Regions from separate parts of the Homo sapiens genome. Here region 2 is linked to region 1. Evidence: fine-mapped expression QTL. A gene starts in region 1. The other region holds a variant in brackets. All regions are shown on one strand. Distances are from middle to middle.

Region 1 (9,496 bases):
TCAGCCTGAGCAACACAGTGAGACCCTCATCTCTACAAAAGATACAAAAACAGGCTGGGCACGGTGGCTCATGCCCATAATCCCAGCACTTTGAGACGCCGAGGTAGGCAGATTACCTGAGGTCAGGAGTTAGAGACCAGCCTGACCAACATGGTGAAACCCCCGTCTCTACTAAAAATACAAAAATTAGCCGGGCGTGGTGGCGGGCACCTGTAATCCCAGCTACTCGGGAGGCTGAGGCAGGAGATTCACTTGAACCCAGGAGGTGGAGGTTGCACTGAGCTGAGATCATGCCACTGCACTCCAGCCTGGGTGACAGAGTGAGACTCCATCTCAAAAAAAGGAAAAAAAAAAAAATTAGCCAGGCGTGGTGGTATGCGCTTGTAGTCCCAGCTATTTGGGAAGCTGAGGTGGAAGAACGCAGTGAGCTACGATCCCAGCACTGCACTGCAGCCTGAGCAACATAGCGAGACCCTGCCTCCTAAAAACAAAAACAAAAAAAAACACTGTCTCCTGGATCCATCAGTAAACCCCAAAACTGCACAGGAAAGTGTGCAATCAACATAAGTGCGAATTACAAAATATACTGGCAGGTCCATTTTTCCAGATTAAACTGTAAAAAAAAAAAGGAAATCCAACTAGTCAATCATTAGTCCAATAATAATTCCTTGAATTGCTAAATTTTAGTGTTTTATTTCCTCAACATTTCCACAATTTTTTTTAAGACAGGGTCTCATTCTGTCACCCAGGCTGGACTGTGTGATCTTAGCTACTGTAACCTCCACCTCCAGGGCTCAAGAGATTCTCCCACCTCAGCCTCCCAAGTAGCTGGGACCACAGGCACAAGCCACCACGCCCAGCTAAGTTTTATATTTTTTTCGTAGAGACAGGGTTTCACCATGTTGCCCAGGATCCTCTGGAACTCCTGCGCTCAAGTGATCTGCCTGCCTTGGCCTCCCAAAGTGCTGGGCCCCTGTAATCCCAGCTACTCCGGAGGCTGAGGCAAGAGAATTGCTTCAGCCCGGGAGGCGGAGGTTGCAGTGAGCCGAGATCGCATCACTGCACTCCAGCCTGTGCGGCAGAGCAAGACTCCGTCTTGGAAAAAATAAATAAATAAATAAATAATAGTAATAGGATCCTTTCACTTCAGAATATTCAAATGGAAAAGGTTCATATTAGGAATAGCTCCTCCAACAAAAGAAATTGCTGTTTCTAAGCACTGATAGCATGAGACCAAAACTCAATAGCAATTCTCCACTAAAGAAAATTTTTTAAAAATAAAGCACTAACACAATGAGCACTTATCCATTCCATTTCCAAAAACAACTTACCTTCTGCACCTTCCTTTTGCAGATTTGAAATCCAGATTCTCACACAATCACTGGCCATCTCTTCTGTTTCATTCAACAGCATACACACCAGAGTGTCTCTTACTATTATATACATCAGTAGAGGCCGGGCGAGGTGGCTCATGCCTGTAATCTCAGCACTTTGGGAGGCCAAGGTGGGTGGATCACCTGAGGTCAGGAGTTTGAGACCAACCTGACCAACATGGTGAAACCCCATCTCTACTAAAAATACAAAATTAGCCAGGCGTGGTGGCACATGCCTGTAATCCCAGCTACTTGGGAGGCTGAGGTAGGAGAATCACTTGAACCAGGGAGGTGGAGGGTGCAGTGAGCAGAGATTGTACCACTGCAGCCTGGACAACAAGAGCGAAACTCTGTCTCAAAAATAAATAAATAAATAAATAAATAAAATACATCAATAGAAAGCACACTCACCTTATTCTGCTTTCTAATTATGAAAACAGGAGTGCAGGCCGGGCACAGTGGCTCACGCCTGTAATTTCAGCACTTTGGAAGGCCAAGGCAGTAGGATCGCTTGAGCCCAGGAGTCTGAGACCAGCCTAGGCAGCACAGCAAGACCCTGTCTCTATTAAATAAGTAAACAAACAAACATAAACAGAAGTGCAAATGCCCTAATCCAAAATTATTTTTAAAAAAGATACTTGAGGCCGGGCACGGCGGCTCATGCCTGTAATCCCAGCCCTTTGGGAGGCTGAGGCGGGTGGATAACCTGAGGTCAGGATTTCAAGACCAGCCTGGCCAACATGGTGAAATCCCGGCTCTAGTTAAAAAATACAAAAATTAGACCAGCATGGTGGCGCACGCCTGTAGTCCCAGCTACTTGGGAGGCTGAGGCGGGAGAATCGCTTGAACCCAGGAGGCGGAGGTTGCAGTGAGACGATATGGCGCCACTGCACTCCAGCCTGGGTGACAGAGTGAGACTCCGTCTCAAAAAAAAAAAAAAAGATATTTGAGATTAAATAATACAGAATAACTGCTCTCATCTTTCCCCTCAAACACCATACTTCAATATGAAATTTTAAATGGCTTTTTTCCCCAAATGGGAAAGAAGGATTCCTGGGTCTTGATGGGAGAGCAAGCAAGTTTAAGAGTAAAACATACTAATAAGCCATTGCAAACAGGTGAGATACGATCAGAGCGTGTGCTGTTGCAGGAAACAGAATGGAAAGCCGTGAATGGGAGTCTCTGCACTTCATATCTGCAAAAGAAGAGAATAAAAAGGTTAACTCCAGACTTAGAACAGGTTCTCTTCCCCTGTTGAAAGCAGAGCCCAAAAACATTTTAAATCAAAAAATGAAAATGTGGTTAAGCCAAATTTGTAGATGAACTCAACCTTCTTGTCCTTAATACATAAACTGAATCCCAGGTGTTAGAAGTTACTTGAACATTTTTATGCTACACCACCTTGACATTAAAGGATTTTTTAAAAATCTCCAATCTCTTCTTTAAACTTTTCTTAAACTATCATTAAAATTAGCAAAATATGCTTCTCTGTTGAATGGTTAACCTAACGGGAATGACTTCTAACCGTAAGAATTACAGTTAAAAGGTTCATTTTAACAAATGCTCTTCCCCCTGTAAGGAGTGACAGGTAACCTTTTGGGAACCCCAATGTACACACCCCTTTCTCCAATCCCGCTAAAGTTAAACGTTAGAGGACAGACAAGTGCCTCCTCGCAAGCAATGCCCCCCGCCCCCCCGTCCCCCCGTCCAACACTCCGTTCTCTGCAAAAATCCATCTGCATCTTGCATTAACCCACCCGCCCAGTGACGGTGACTCCAGGCCAAGTCGCAGAAGAAGACCAGGCGTGAGGGGTGAGACCTGTGAGCCCATCTGCACCTGCACCCTCCCACCTGGTGGCACACCTGCCCCGCAGGCGCCCACCTGGGGCCGGGACCGCCCTCTCCCGGTCTCGCGCGCCTGCCCCACTCGGAGCGCGCGCCACGCGCCGCGCAGGACCAGAGGGCGGGGCCCCGGGCAGCGGGGAAGCGAGGGCTCGGGGAGAGGGGGCCGCCCGGGCTCACTCCCTCCCTGGGGACCCAGCGGACCGGAGGGTGCTGGGGGCGGGCGCGGTACCTTTTGGACAGATCCATGAGGACCCCGGAGAAGAGCTTCTCCCCGAAGCGGAACGACACGACAAGCGCGTCCTCAATGATGTGGTCCAGCGTGACCCGCACCTCCGAGCCCGGGATCAGTTGCGACACCGTGGAGTCCCCGCCCGCCGGCGGCACGAGCGCCGGGGCTACGGGCTGAGGCAGCGGCGGCTCCTCGCGCTCCTCGGGAGCCGGGGGCTGCTCCGGCGGCGATGCAGGAGAAGGTGGAAGTTCCGGCCCTCCCTGAGGCGCGGCTGCCGCCGACTCCGCCACCCGAACGGACAGTTTCTCCTCAGCCTCCAGCTCCGGCCCCACCGCCTCTGGGCTGCGGGCGAGCTCCCCCGGCGGCGGCGGTGGCGGCGGGAGCGGCGGCTCGTCGGCCTGAGGAGCGGATTGCTGCCCGTCAGTCTCGCCATCCGGCACAGACGCTTCAGTGGCCGTGACCGGGAGGGGGTCAGTGCCGGCCTCACTGCCGGGGATGGGCTCCATCTCCGGCTCGGCCTCGCCGGCGCCCCCCTCCCCGGGGGACGCTGCAGTCGCTGCCGCCTCTGCAGCCACGGCCGCCATTTTCTTCCTAGCTTCTCCCTCCTCCAACTCCGGCTGCAGCGGCGGCGGCGACAGCGCTGCTTGGTTCCCTGGGCCTTCCCCTCCCTCCCGCGAACACTTTCGTCCCGCCCTTTCCCTGATGCTCGTTTCTGGCACCTCGCCATTGGTTGCATTCTACACCCCTCCCGCACTTTTGATATTCCATTGGCCAGGGATGGACGTCTATCATCTAGTCAGTCCATCCTTCCCACGCAGAGTAGGAACTTCTCATTGGCCAGATGTGTTGTCAAGTGTGGAATCTGAGTGGAGGAATAGGGGGCGGAATCAAAGGGGGCGGGGGAAGTCACAAAAGAGGAGCCATATACTCATCGCCTCTTGCTATTGGCTGGAAGAGGAAATAAAGTTTTATGGTTGGCCTACGCTCCTGCCCATTATCAGCCAGGTCTTTGGAGGTGGGAGAAAGGATGGAATCATGTGGCGTGCCACTTCTTTCAAAGGCGGCCGAGGGGAGGAGTAACAAGGGAATGCGGGAGGGGAACCGCTTCCCAAGAATCTCTGCGCAGAGATCCTTAGAATAAATGTTATTTCTAGGCGCGGACTTCTTGCGGCCGCGTGTGGGCACGACAGGCTTCTTTGGGAAAGACAACTAAAGTTTGAAATACAATCCTACAGACACTTTTTGAGTGCCTACTATGCTAGTCACTGCACTAGGTGCTGGGGAATGGAATGTTCAAGACGTTCTCCATAACCTCATAGCAGCGGGCTCCAGCGGCCATGAGGAGTACGAGGAGTATTTTCCTTGACTTCTAGGAGTATGATGAGTATTTTCCTTGACTTCTCTCCACTTCCTAGGAACAAAGCACCTATTTATTAATATTTCAGAAATAGGAAAATGCTCATGAAAGAAGAGAGACACCATCCTCACTGGATTAAACTGATGACTGTTCCAGGAAGGAGTCTTGAGACATTGCTGGACTGATATGTGAACACTGCTTGTTCTCTCCAAATCCACTTGCAAAGTGGACGCACCTGGTCCCTGCTAAAGCCTTTTTCTTTCCTGGCTTCTCCAATGCCACGAGAACAAAAGATCTCTCACTTCAGTGTCCTGACGCCCCTACTTCTCTTACTTCCACATCAAGTCTTTTCGTTTGTCATCTCTGGAAGAATCTACTGAACCTATTTCTCTCAAATGGCACCACAGAGTCAGCCTTTTTTCTGGGAGAATGCCTGCAGGAGAGAGGGTAGAAAAACTGCTAGCAATGAAAGTAAAAAAAATAAAGTCCTGAAGAATAATTACAGCTAGTGTCTTTTGAGTACCATGTACCAGGCACTAATACAAACACTATAGCATATCATCTCAATCCTTAAAATTTTGAGGCACAAAGAGGGTGCCCAAGGTTACTCGGCTGGTAAATTGCATAGTCAGAATTTCAGTTTTACATGGAAAAGACTGAAAATAGCAATAAACAAATATCACCATATGCTCTGCCTATTTCAAACCAAGTGGCTCGTGGGGAAAGGCCAGTAGAAGATCCCAATCAGGGAAGTTTCAGAATATCATTTAAAAATACAGAAAGAAACAAATGTACTTAGTGTTCATTTTGTACCAGAGATTTTCCCAAAACTCTCACTTAAAATCCTGTGACTTAAATCTTCTCCCTTTTTTACAGATGAGGAAGCCAAGCCTTAGCCATGTTAAACATCCTAAGCGGGCCAAGCGCGGTGGCTCAAGCCTGTAATCCCAGCACTTTGGGAGGCCGAGGCAGGCGGACCACCTGAGGTCAGGAGTTTGAGAACAACCTGACCAACATGGTGAAACCCCATCTCTACTAAAAATACAAAATTAGCTGAGCATGGTGGCGCATGCCTGTAATCCCAGCTACTTGGAAACCTGAGGCAAGAGAATTGCTTGAACTCAGGAGGCGGAGGTTGCAGTGAGCCGAGATGTGCCCACTGCACTCCACTCTGGGCAACAAGAGTGAAACTCCGTATCAAAAAAATAAAAATAAAAAGATAATAAGATCTTAAGGGTCATACAGCTAGCTAGCAGCAGATCCTATCTAACCTGGGTCCTTCCAAGTACATGACTTTCACTCAATCATTCATTCATCAAAGAGTTATCTCCTTCAGGCTAGATACTTGCAGTAAGCAGATACAGATTCTGCCTTATAGGGTTTTCACCATAATATTTTGTCTACAGTTCACCATAATCAACTAATTAAACACAACATAGAGTCTATGAAATGCCTAGACCCTAAGGTCTCACATTGTATAATCTCCCACAGGGAGAAAAATATAGTTCGGGTCCTGGGACCTGATTACCTCTTGTAGTAATTCATTACAAGATGCTGCAATGAGTAATTTACATTTCAGCTTCATAATAGATTGTGGCATACCAAGTCATTGTCCTAAGCCACCATTTCATTCTGTAACTCAAGAGCTTCTACTGGCTCCCAATGCTCACATGGAGTGTACCTTCTTCTGCTTGGCTTTCAAAGCCCTCTCTGTGTTGTCACCTTACCTTTCAAGGTCTCTTTTCCACTACTCTTCAAGCCTCCTAATACTAGAAAGATTTGGTCTTATATTATTCATTCACTTATTCATTCATTCAACAAATAAATATTAAAGGGGCCGGGCGCGGTGGCTCATGCCTGTAATCCTAGCACTTTGGGAGGCTGAGGCGGGTGGATTACCTGAGGTCAGGAGTTCAAGACTAGCCTGGCCAACATGGTGAAACCTTGTCTCTACTAAAAATACAAAAAATTAGCCGAGTGCAGTGGCACGCACCTGTAATCCCAGCTACTCAGGAGACTGAGGCAGAAGAATCGCTTGAACCCAGGAGGCGGAGGTTATGGTTAGCCAAGATTGTGTCACTGCACTCCAGCCTGGGTGACAGAGCAAGACTTTGTCTCAAAAAAAATTAATAAATAATAAATAAATATTAAAGGACTACTGTGTTTCAGTGACTGGACTAGTCAGGCAGAAGGCATGAAATAAAGAATACAAAAGATATCACTTGAGTTCAGGAGTTCAAGACCAGCCTGGGCAACACAGGGGTTTCACTGTGTTGCCCAGGCTGGTGAATATATATATATACGAAAGATTTAGTAACTGCCCTCCTGAGGATTATTTTTCTAGTTGGGGAACTGTAAAATGAGCATACAATGAATAAAAAGATGATCACAGATGTAAGCAATACCATGAGAGAAATAAACAGGGTGAGAGAATAGAAGTAGCTGGCAGAGGGGCTGAAGGGTGTCTCCTCTAGATAAGGTTGTCACAAAAGCCCTCTCTGAGGATTGGACATCTTAACTAAGATGCAAAGGAAAAGGCAACCAGCTATTGATATTGCTGGATGAACATTTGGATGAAAAGGAACAGCAATTGTTTGAAGTTCTGAGGCAAAAGAGGGCTTGGCTTGTTCCAGAAACAGAAGGAAGACCAATCTGGTTGAGGAATGAGCAAGAAGTTGAGTAGATGAGGTTGAAAAGGAAAACAGGACCCAAATCATGTTTTGTACTGCAGATACAAAAGCAAGGGATTCTGCCCTCAGGGAGCTCCAAATCTAGTGGAAAGCCTGGGCCAGCCATAGTGGCTCATGCCTGTAATCCCAACATTTTGGGAGACTAAGGCAGGAGGATTGCTTGAGCCTAGGAGTTTGAGGCTGTAGTAAGCTATGACCATGCCACTGCACTCCAGCCTTGCAAGACGGTGAGACCCGAACTCAAAGAAAAAAAAGAAACCTGGCTTTTACATTTGCTTTTGTAATCTATTCACCTCTGCATTCAGCCTCCTCCTGGCATGGAATTGGTATGGAGGATGCCTTTGATATTTGTTTAATGGATGGCCACATGATATTTGTGGCTGACTAGGTGATTGGATGGATGGTTGATGGATTGGATGGATAGTTGGAGAACTGAACAGACGGTTGAATAGATGAATGGATGGTTGAATGAATAGATGAATGGCAGGGATAAGGAAACCAGCTGATTGCTGAAACAGATCCTCACTTTCATGAGCATACTTTCATCTCAAGCTCTGCAAGATACTATAATATGGTGGCTAAAATTCAGTTGAAGTAAATAAACCTGTAACTGGCCAGGCTCAGTGACTCACATCTGTAATCCCAGCATTTTGGGAGGCGGAGGCAGGCAGATCACCTGAGCTCAAGAATTTGACACAAGCCTGGGCAACGTGGCAAAACCCTGTCTCTACAAAAAATACAAAAATTAGACAAGCATGATGGTGTGTGCCTGTAGTCCCAGCTACTCAGGAGGCTGAGCCCGGGAGATTGAGGTTGCAGTGAGCCATGATTTTACCACTACACTTCAGCCTGGGCAACAGAGTGAGATGCTTTCTCAAAAATAAAAAATAAAGCCAGGCGCGGTAGCTCATGCCCATAATCCCAGCACTTTGGGAGGCCGAGGCTGGTGGATCACCTGAGGTCAGGAGTTCAAGACCAGCCTGGCCAACACAGTGAAACCCCATCTCTACTAAAAAAAATTAGCTGGAAGTGGTGGTGCATGCCTGTAATCCCAACTACTCAGGAGGCTGAGGCAAGAGAATTGCTTGAACTACTCAGGAGGCAGATGTTGCAGTGAGCCAAGATCGCGCCATTGCACTCCAGCCTGGGCAACAAGAGCGAAACTCCGTCTCAAAAAAAAAAAAATAAGCCAGGCATGGTGGCTCACGCCTGTAATCCCAGCACTTTGGGAGGCCGAGGTGGATGGATCACCTGAGGTCAGGAGTTCGAGACCAGCCTGGCCAACATGGTGAAAACCTGTCTCTACTAAAAATACAAAAATTAGCCAGGCATGGTGGCATGCACCTGTAGTCCCAGCTACTGGAGAATTGCTTGAACCCTGGAGGTGGAGGTTATGGTGAACCGAGATCGTGCCACTGCACTCCAGCCTGGGTGACTGAGCAAGACTCCGTCTCAAAAAATAAAAATAAAAAATAGCGCCGGGCGCGGTGGCTCACGCCTGTAATACCAGCACTTTGGGAGGCCGAGGCGGGCAGATCACAAGGTCAGGAGATCGAGACCATCCTGGCTAACATGGTGAAACCCCATCTCTACTAAAAATACAAAAAATTAGCCAGGCGTAGTGGCAGGCTCCTGTAGTCCCAGCTGCTCTGGAGGCTGAGGCAGGAGAATGGCATGAGCCCGGGAGGCGGAGCTTGCAGTGAGCCGAGATCGTGCCACTGCACTCCAGCCTGGGCAACAGAGCGAGACTCCGTCTCAATAAATAAATAAATAAATAAATAAATAAATAAATAAATAAATAAATAAAATAATATAAATAATAAAAAAATAAATAAAACTGTATCTGACTCCCCAGTCATCCTCTGACTACCTATATGATCTGAGCATGATCTTAGGCAAATCACTTAACCTATTTCCTCATTTGTAAAACATCTTAATAATAACTACTTACCAATAGAGATTACTAGGGGGGTTTTTGTTTTGTTTTTCAAGGCTGAGTCTT
Region 2 (9,496 bases), 46 kb after region 1:
TGGAGGTTGCAGTGAGCTGAATGCGCCATTGTACTCCAGCCTGGGAGACAGAGTGAGACTCCGTCTCAAAAACAAACAAACAAAAAAAAATTAGGTCTCGTAAGACTTATTCACTACCAGGAGAACAGTATGGGTGAAACCGCCCCATGATTCAATTATCTGGCCCTCCCCTTGACACGTGAGGATTGTTACAATTCAAGGTGAGATTCACGTGGGACACAGCCAAACCATATCAGACACTGAGGTTGATTACATATCTTGGCTATTGTGTAGTGCTGTGATAAACACAAGGGTACAGATAGCTCTGGACAAACTGATTTCCTTTCTTTTGAACACATACCTAGCAGTGGGGTTGCTGGATCATATGGTAGTTCTATGTTTTGTTTTTTGAGGATGATAACCTTTTTGTAGGCTCAGGTGTCCCTTTGAATCTGAAAAAAGTCATAAATGCTCTCCTAAGACATGTAACTTTTTGTAATTTTAGGGGGCTCCCAAAGCCTCTGATATTTATCAGAGATCCTCCAAAAAATAACGTCGGCTCAACCCAGACCCTCTATCTTAACTCTTCCTACAACTTCCCCAGTGGTCTTGTGTCTTTCCTGATGGTCTTCAAGAGCAGGAACTTCCTGTCTCTCCAGGCAGCCCATTCAAACAACAAGATTCAACAGAAACTTCTTCCCTCTGGTGAGAAGTCAGCTTCCCGGCATCGCTGCAGTGAGCCTGGAGCCCTGAGAACAGGTCAGCTCCCAGCTCCTAGACGGTTCCTCAGATGATGGCCTTTGGTCCTTCCCACCCTTCTTTCCTCAAAGGCTTTTTTTTTTTTTTTTTTTTGAGACAGGGTCTCGCTCTGTGGCCCAGGCTGGAGTGCAGTCGCACGATCTTGGCTCACTGCGACCTCCGTCTCCTGGGTTGAAGCGATTTTCCTGCCTCAGCCTCCCAAGTAGCTGGAATTACAGACACCCGCCATGACGCCCAGCTAATTTTCATATTTTTGTAGAGATGGGGTTTCACCATGTTGGCCAGGCTGCTGTTGAACTCCTGACCTCATGATCTGCCCGCCTCAGCCTCCCAAAGTGCTAGGATTACAGGCGTGAGTCACTGTGCCAGCCCTTTTTTTTTTTTTTTTTTTTTTTTTTTTTTTTTTTTGAGACAGAATCTTGCTCTGTTGCCCAGGCTGGAGTGCAGTGGCACCATCTCAGCTCACTGCAACCTCCGCCTCCTGCGTTCAAGCAGTTCTACTGTCTCACCCTCCCAAGTAGCTGAGACTACAGGTACACACCACTATGCCCAGCTAATTTTTGTATTTTTAGTAGAGACGGGGTTTCACCATATTGGTCAGGCTGGTCTTGAACTCCTGACCTCAGGTGGTTCACCCACCTCAGTCTCCCAACGTGCTGGGATTACAGGCGTGAGCTGCCATGCCCGGCTGGCTCCCTCTTTTTAAAATTTTTTTAGAGATGGGATCTCACTATGTTGCCCAGGCAGGACTCGAACTTCTGGGCTCCGGCAACCCTCTCATCTTAGCCTTCTGAGTAGCTGGGACTACAGGCATGTGCCACCAAGCCTGGCTAACTTCCCCCTTAAAGTGAGAGGCATGGAGATGACGGTGATGTTGCTTCTGAAAAGATGTCTTCATTTATGCTGAGAGCAGGTGTGGATGGAGGGAACCCCAAACCCCCTTTACATCCCCTTTTTTCTGACTCAGCCCAGCCTTGGCCAAGGGACTGGATATACCTTTCTGGGCCTAGATGAGTCCTACTGCAAACTAGCAGGCGGTTGATGAGATTGGGGTTACAAATGCAAATGCTTACACTGGGGTCATGCCAATAATAGAAACGTCTAGGAATATTCATTTCCTCTATAAACACGTAGGTTCTCTTCTGATTTCCTTGAAACATGCCACACTCTCAGTCTCGTTTCCTATTTCTGATGAATCCGTAGAGGCAGACTATCTAAAGTAATTAAAAAAAAAATGCAAGAGTGAAGGAAAATGATGGCGGGGCGTGGTGGCTCACACCTGTAATCCCAGCACTTTGGGAGGCCAAGGCAGGTGGATCACTTAAGGTCAGGAGTTTGAGACCAGCCTGGCCAACATGGTGAAACCCCATCTCTATTAAAAATACAAAAATTAGCCAGGCATGATGGCATGTACCTGTAATCCCAGATACTCAGGAGGCTGAGGCAAGAGAATCACTTGAACCTGGGAAGCCGAGGTTGCAGCAGGCTGAGATTGCCCCACTGTACTCCAGCCTGGGTGACAGAGCAAGACTGAGTCTCAAAAAAAAAAAAAAAAAAGGAGTGAAGGAAAATGACAACTGGCACTTGGTCTCAGTGGAGGGGAATAAGAGGGGCCTGCTGACTGTCTATGGGGAACATGTAGGATGCCCACTCTGTCTTTAGGGCAACTGGCACTCAGCATATGCTGATTGGTGCCATGTGGACATGGATGCCCAATGTTAGCAGATCTCACACACTTTCTAGAGAAATTGAACACATCAATTTTTATTTGAAATTTCCCGATTATTAAAACTTTGGCTCAAATTTTTCTTAAAAAGTAGGAGGGCCAAGTACAACGTATTCTGGACTGTGAGCTGCCAGCCTGCCATCTCCAGATTAGGTGGGTTTTTTGTTTGTTTGTGTTGTTTTGTTTTGTTTTTGAGACAGAGTCTCCATCTGTAGCCCAGGCTGGAGTGCAGTGGCGAGATCTAGGCTCACTGCAACCTCTGCCTCCCGGGTTCAAGCAATTCTCTGCCTCAGTCTCCCGAGTACCTGGTATTACAGGCACCTACCACCATGCCTGGCTAATTTTTTGCATTTTTAGTAGAGATGGGGTTTCACCATCTTGGCCAGGCTGGTCTTAATCTCCTGACGTCGTGGTCTACCCACCTCAGCCTCCCAAAGCGCTGGGATTACAGGTGTAAGCCACCGTGTCCGGGCTTTTTTTTTTTTCTTTTCTTTTGAGACAGGGTCTCCTCTGTCACTCAGGCTGGAGTGCACTAGTGCGATAATGACTTACTGTAGCCTCAACCTCCCAGGCTCAGGTGATCCTCCTGCCTCAGCTTCTTGAGTAGCTGGGACCACAAGTCTGTGCCACCTGGCCTGGCTAATTTTTTAAAAAATTATCTGTAGAGGCAGGGTCTCCCTATGTTGCCCAGGCATACCTTGAGCTTGTGGGCTCAAGCGATCCGCCCACCTCAGCCTCCCAAAAGGCTGGCATTACAGACGTGAGCCACTGAGCTATCCCAGATTAGGTGTTTTTAAAGCTGTCTTTCTGCTGGAATGTTCTATGGAGAGAGCAGTGAACAGGGAAGGAGGAAAAGAAGAAGGGATAGCAGGAGTCACTGGGGAATCTCTTTGAGACCCAGTTGCGGGGAGAGGAAGAAGGTCTGGCCTTTCTACTCAGTAAGGCTCTGTTTAGGTTAACCCTTCTTTTCCTCTTGCTGCTGGCTCTCACTTGGGAGAAACGTAATGGCCCAAGCCTTAAGAGTGTCTGAGCAGATCTGAACTGCATGCTCCAGTGTGTTGCTGGAGAGGCGTGGCTGTGGCTCTGGTGGAAGGTGAGAGGGGAGACCACTATCCTAGTCTAGAAGAGGCCTGAGGCCTCGGCCTCCAAGAGGACCGCTCTCTGTGCCCTGGCCTGCTGCTATCCCTGGAGGAGCCCCGGATGTCCTTCCGACTGGGCCTGTGTGTCAGGGAGAGAGAATGTAGTCTGTGGTCAGTGTGGCTGGCAGCCAGCCTGGCAGATGGCCAGAACCCAGAGCTCGCTGGGAAGGAGCATAAACAAGGCGCCTGGTGGGCAGCTGTGACCCAGAATCTTCCAGCAGAAGAGCAGTGAGGAAGGAGGGGGGAATGCCAGGGGGACCCTCGCCCCGATTCCCCAGGCTGCCCAGCACTCAGGCATCAGTCAGGGACAGCATGGGGCTCCCTGAGGCACCGGGCAAGCAGCTGCCACAGAAAGAACTGGAGGAGCCCACTTTGAAGGGGTCTCCTGAGACTCTGTGATCCCATGACTCTGTGATTCAGCTTTTCTTACACTGTAGAGTCACTCTGTACAGAGGACATCTGTGGTTTTCCCTTGCCGAGCATCCACTCTGCTCCTTCTGTTAGCAGCACCCTAGTTATCCTCC[G/A]GGAAACCACCCCGCCTCCACTCAGTCCATGCGGTTTGGGTGAGGCTGACTTTGCTTTTCCACCCTCCCAGCTTGAGGGTGGGCATGTGTGCCCGGCCTGGCCAATCAGCAGACTTCTTCTTCTGCTGGATCCAGTGAAACCCAATCCAAGGGATTTTGCTGGAACTCTTGGGAAAAGTAAAATTGACAGCAATTGGCTTGATGCATATCTGGAGGTGCTGGGGGCCATCTGGTCCTGACATGGGAGGAGCTTGCCAGAGAATGAAGCCATCACAGAGAAAGACAGCATAGAGAGGGAGGGAGAGGACAACAGATTGATTAATTGACATGTGTAAGAGACAGAAAAATAACTGAGACTTGATGAAATGGTTTGAGCTCCTAGATCCAGCTTTAAATGATGTAGTTGGTATCTAATCCCTGGACTTTTCAGTGAAGGGGTCTAGAATATGCTGCCATGGCATAAAAATTATTATGAGCAGAAGGGATTTGAGTTCCTGAAATCTTTGATCTGCCTAAAAGTAGAGCCTCCCAAAAGAACTCAATTATAAATCCCCTCCCAGAGCAATCAGGGAAGATTGACTGTTATCTCTGAAGGCTAGAAGTCACCACACCTAAACAGACTGTCACAAAATTATCATATCTCCCATCTATTCTCCTAAGGGCCCATCTCTCTTTCCTAAAAGTCACGTGTTCCTGTAAGTGCCCTTCTCCCTTTTCCTTCCTCTATTAAGATGGTATATAAACTCCCAATTCTAATGCCTTCCTGAGTCACATTTTTGTGTGAATTCCTTTAAGGATAAGATTAAATGATTAAATCCGTCTCTTCTCATGCTAATCTGTCTTTTGTCAGTTTAATTTGCAGGCCCCCAGTCATTATCCTAACAAGGTAGAGGAAAACTTTTCCCTGCCCCGTCTCCACCTGCTCATCTAAGCTTCCATGACTCCAACATTCTACACAAGTCTATGATTTACCTAAGAACTAAATTCTACTTCATTTTCTTCAAGGCAGAAAGAAGCCAGCAAAGAACCTGGGGCCCTTTAAAACCCACCCTGATTGCTTGGAATTGGAGGGATTTGCCAATGAAATCTCAAGGATCCTGGCTGCATTTCTGCCCTGTCAGCACCCCCGGTGTTATCGGAAAAGGGGGTCCTGATACAGAACTCAAGAGAGGGTTCTTGGACCTCACACAACAAAGAGTTTGGGGAGAGTCCATAAAGTGAAAGCAAGTTTATTAAGGAAATAAAGGAATAAAAGAACGGCTACTCCATAGGCAGAGCAGCAGCTTGGGCTGCTGGACTAAGGATACTTATTGCTTGATTATATGCTAAACAGGGGGTGAATTATTCATGATTTTTCAGGAAAGGGGTGGGCAATTTCCGGAGCTGAGGGTTCCCCCTCTTTTAGACCATATAGGGTAACTTCCTGATGTTGCCGTGGCATTTGTAAACTGTCGTGGCACTGGTGGGAGTGTCTTTTAGCATGCTACTGCATTGTAATTAGTGTATAATGAGTGGTGAGGATGACCAGAGGTCACTTTCATGACCATCTTGGTTTTGTTGAGTTTTGGCCGGTGTCTTTACTGCAACCTGTTTTATCAGCAAGGTCTTTTATGACCTGTATCTTGTGCCGACCTCCTATCTCATCAACGCGTGACTAAGGATGCCTTAACTTTTTGGGAATGCAGCCCAGTAGGTCTCAGCATTATTTTACTCAGCTCCTGTTCAAGATGGAGTCGCTCTGGTTTGAATGCCTCTGACAACAGCATATACCCTAGGGAAACTTGATTTCTAGAGCACAAACCCGCAAAGAGAATGCCATGGGTCCTAGTAGTGTCCTTCATTCATCTGTCAATTCAATGCAAATGTATGGAACACCAACTGTTTTCAAAGATGAAGTTCTTATCCTCAGAGATCTTAGATTTTGGTGAGGAAAACAGACCAGTAAAAAAAATTTCATCAGAAAGTGATTAGTGCTATATTAGAGGTAAGTACCGAGAAGCAGCCTGTAGACCAGGGGGAGGCAGTAGGCATGACATAGGTGCTTCATGAAAGAAGTGACCTTTGAGCTGAATTCCACAGGATGAGGAGTCAGGCAGGAGAGAGGGTAGAAGAAGAGCTTTCCGGGCAAGCAAAGGAGCAATATGAGGTGCCAAATCCAAGGGATGGGAGAGGCTGTGGCTTGTAAGAGGAATTAGCTGGGGTAGAGTTGGTGTGGGTAGAGATTCCCTATTAGGGAACAGGGTGGCTGGCATGCTGTTTGACAAGCTGGTTTTGATGAGGGCTGCTTCCTACATGTAAGAACATACAGACAGCAAGCAACACAGCTCAGTCCCAAACCTGAGCCCCGGGCAAAGCCTGACTCATGTCCAAAGAGTAGAAAACAAGCTGGTGGATCCCCAGTCAGGGTTCCAAGCCAAGGGGTACAGCAGAGCCTCTGAGCATACGTATTGGTGAGCTCCATGCCCACAGTGGGCACTTGGACCTTTCCCTATTGGAAATTACTGTAGGCCACTAAAGGCAGGGCCCAGCGATACTTTGCAAAAATCTTCATTCTCTTCTCCCGCTCCCCAATTCCTCCTAGATACCCCTTTTTCCCATGCATGTCCTTCAGCTCTGCAGAGCCTATGAGGACAGTAAATGACCATGTGTAAAAGTAGGTGCTTTGTGGAGCCAGGCAACCCCAGGTTCCACTCCTTGCTGGGCCATTATTGAGAGTGTGACCTTTTTTTTTTTCCCCTTTTGGCTTTTTTCTGGGGGTTGGGGTGAAGGACACAGTCTCACTCTGTTGCCGAGGCTGGAGTGCAGTGGTGTGAGCATAGCTCACTGCAGCCTTGAACTTCTGGGCTCAAGCAATCCTCCTGCCTCAGCGTCCCATGTAGCTGTTACTACAGGTATGCACCGCCATGCCCAGCTGATTTCTTTATTTTGTAGAGACAAGGTCTTGCTGTGTTGCCTAGGCTGGTCTTGAACTTCTGGCCTCAGGCAATCTGGCCTCCCAAAGTACTGGGATTACAGGCATGAGCCACTGTGCCTGGCATGAGTGTGACCCTTTTTTTTTTTAATTTAAAATTTTTTAAAATTTTATGTATTTATTTTCTGAAACGGGGTCTCACTCTCTTACCCAGCCTGGAGTGCAGTGGCGCAATCTCGGCTCACTGCAACCTCCGCCTCCTGGGTTCAAGTGATTCTCCTGCCTCAGCCTCCCAAGTAGCTGGGAAAGTAGGTGCCTGCCACCATGCCTGGCTAATTTTTGTATTTTTAGTAGAGACAGGGTTTTGCCATTTTGGTCAAGCTGATCTTGAACTCCTGACCTCAAGTGATCCGCCTGCCTCAGCCTCCCAAAGTGCTGGGATTACAGGCGTGAGCCACTGCGCCCAGCCAAGTGTGACCTTCTGACACAGTTTCTCTGTATCTCTCTCCTCCTCTGCAGAATGAAGATTATAGTACAGATTACATGAAGTAATGCATATATAGTGAAACAGTCATAAATTCACTCATTGACTCTTTTGTCTGTGGAGCATTCCTTTCTTTGGGAATCCATGCTATTCATTCCATGTACTCTGTTGAGACTTTCAGTCAGAGCCTTGGCCTCTTCCTGGGCACAGGGTAGGGGCACAGACCATGCCCAGCCAATCATGAGATCCCCTTTTTGGCAACAGTGATTGGTCCCTGGGGTGGGCTGAAGCCTCAAGAAAGCCAACCAGAGCCTGCCTTGGGAAAGGACTGCTTCTTCCTGGGGTTACTGAGCTGGGAGAATATAAATCCCGAGAGAGCCTGTCTATCTGTGGATGAAGTCACTTCTTAGAAGGAAATACAGCCAAGATGACGAAGATGATGTAGACATCATCTTGCATTGCTTGAAGCCAGATTCACTTCCTGACTTCCTAATTCTATGAGCCAGTTCGTTAGTTGGGTTTTCCTTATTTAGTTGGGGTTCCTTTACTTGTAGTCATAAGAATCTTAAATCATTTGGCATGCAAAGCCCTGAGCACAGTATCTGCCACATACGAAGGGCTCAAAGAATTGTCACTACAGTGAGGAGGGTGGAAATGATCTTATTCCCCCTTCATCACCACCGTTTTTACTCCCAGAACACAGTTTCACTTCTTTTCCTTCTGGTCTGCTGGCTGTGTGGGCTTCCCATTGGCAGGAATGGGGTAGGGGTCAGGGATACAGTGACAGGCAAGCCAAACTACCCAGTGCCCACCAGACAGACAGCATGGGAGCTGTGGCCACACCACCAACGTCCCCAGCGTGTCCACTGAATGTGATTGGAATCAACTGCACGGTAGAGCAGGAATAAGCTGGAGTCAGACTGACCTAGTTTAAATTCCATCGCTAGAGCTGTGTGACCTATAAAAGGTCACTTTATCTTTCCAGGCTTCTGTTTTTTTTTTTCTATAAAACCAAAACAATAATGGCCCCTGTTTCTCCAAGGGAAGTCATGAGGATTAAATGAGGAAAAAAAGAGAAACCTGGTATTAATATTGTGGTATTAATATGTTCCGGGCATTGGTCTAAGCACTTTGCAAGCTATTAGTCTAATTAACCTTCACAACAAGCCTGGGTGGCAGGTATTACTATTCTTCCCACTTAAAAGATAAAGGAATTGTGGCCGGGCGTGGTGGCTTACATCTGTAATCCCAGCACTTTGGGAGGCTCAGGCGGGTGGATCACCTGAGGTCAGGAGTTCAAGACCAGCCTGGCCCACATGGTGAAACCCCCTCTCTACCAAAAATAAAAAAATTAGCCAGGCGTGGTGGTTGATGCCTGTAATTCCAACTACTAGGGAGGCTGAGGCAGGAGAATCGCTTGAACCTAGGAGGCAGAGGTTGCGGTGAGCCGAGATCACGCCATTGCACTCCAGCCTGGGCAACAAGAGCGAAACTCTGCCTCAAAAAAAAAAAAAAAAAAAAAAAAAAAATGAAGGAATTGAGGTTAGTGTGCCCTGAAGTAGAACCCAGCAGTTGTGGTACATCATGTGATATCTGAAAAGCAAGGGAAGGGGCAACAACTGGGGGCCCTGATGGTGCCTCCTTCCCTTTACATTTTCATATCTAGAAGCCTCTACAGACAGCTCTACATTGCTGGGTGCAGACCCGCCATAAAAAGCAAGCTCTCTCCTCTTTTGAGATGGAGTCTTGCTTTGTCGCCCAGGCTAGAGTGCGATGGCATGGTCTTGGCTCACTGCAACCTCCGCCTCCCAGGTTCAAGCAGTTCTCCTGCCCCAGCTTCCTGAGTAGCTGGGACTACAGGTGCATGCCACCACACTGGCTAATTTTTGTATTTTTAAAAGTAGAGACAGGGTTTCACTATGTTGGCCAGGCTGGTCTTGAACTCCTGACCTCAAGTGATCCACCCGCCTCGGC

Alleles and levels. Positions count from the first base shown, and alleles are read on the strand shown. Sizes are in standard deviations (SD) of each study's normalised expression.
For the expression in macrophages of the gene that starts at base 4,093 in region 1, A is the high allele of the variant in region 2 and G is the other (large effect, 0.87 SD a copy in Nedelec 2016).

The links. PIP is the estimated chance that this variant, and not a neighbour inherited with it, causes the effect.
Region 2: its variant is fine-mapped to the expression of PWWP2A in macrophages (Nedelec 2016, PIP 0.95).

The regions. Positions count from the first base shown.
Region 1 is chr5:160,115,358-160,124,853 of GRCh38, forward strand. It overlaps PWWP2A (PWWP domain containing 2A), which reads right to left and starts at 4,093. Exons shown (of 2, transcript NM_001130864.2): 1 at 3,448-4,093. The coding sequence starts at 4,031. RefSeq lists silencers at 3,089-3,508, 3,629-3,808, 3,909-4,008, 4,169-4,218 and an enhancer at 3,645-4,144.
Region 2 is chr5:160,161,610-160,171,105 of GRCh38, forward strand. No RefSeq gene overlaps it. Among named protein-coding and RNA genes, the nearest start is that of FABP6-AS1, 44 kb to the right of the region's middle. RefSeq lists enhancers at 1-287, 945-1,599, 3,281-3,880, 4,133-4,427, 5,082-5,682 and a silencer at 4,133-4,427. The variant G/A (reference allele first, on the strand shown) is at 4,128.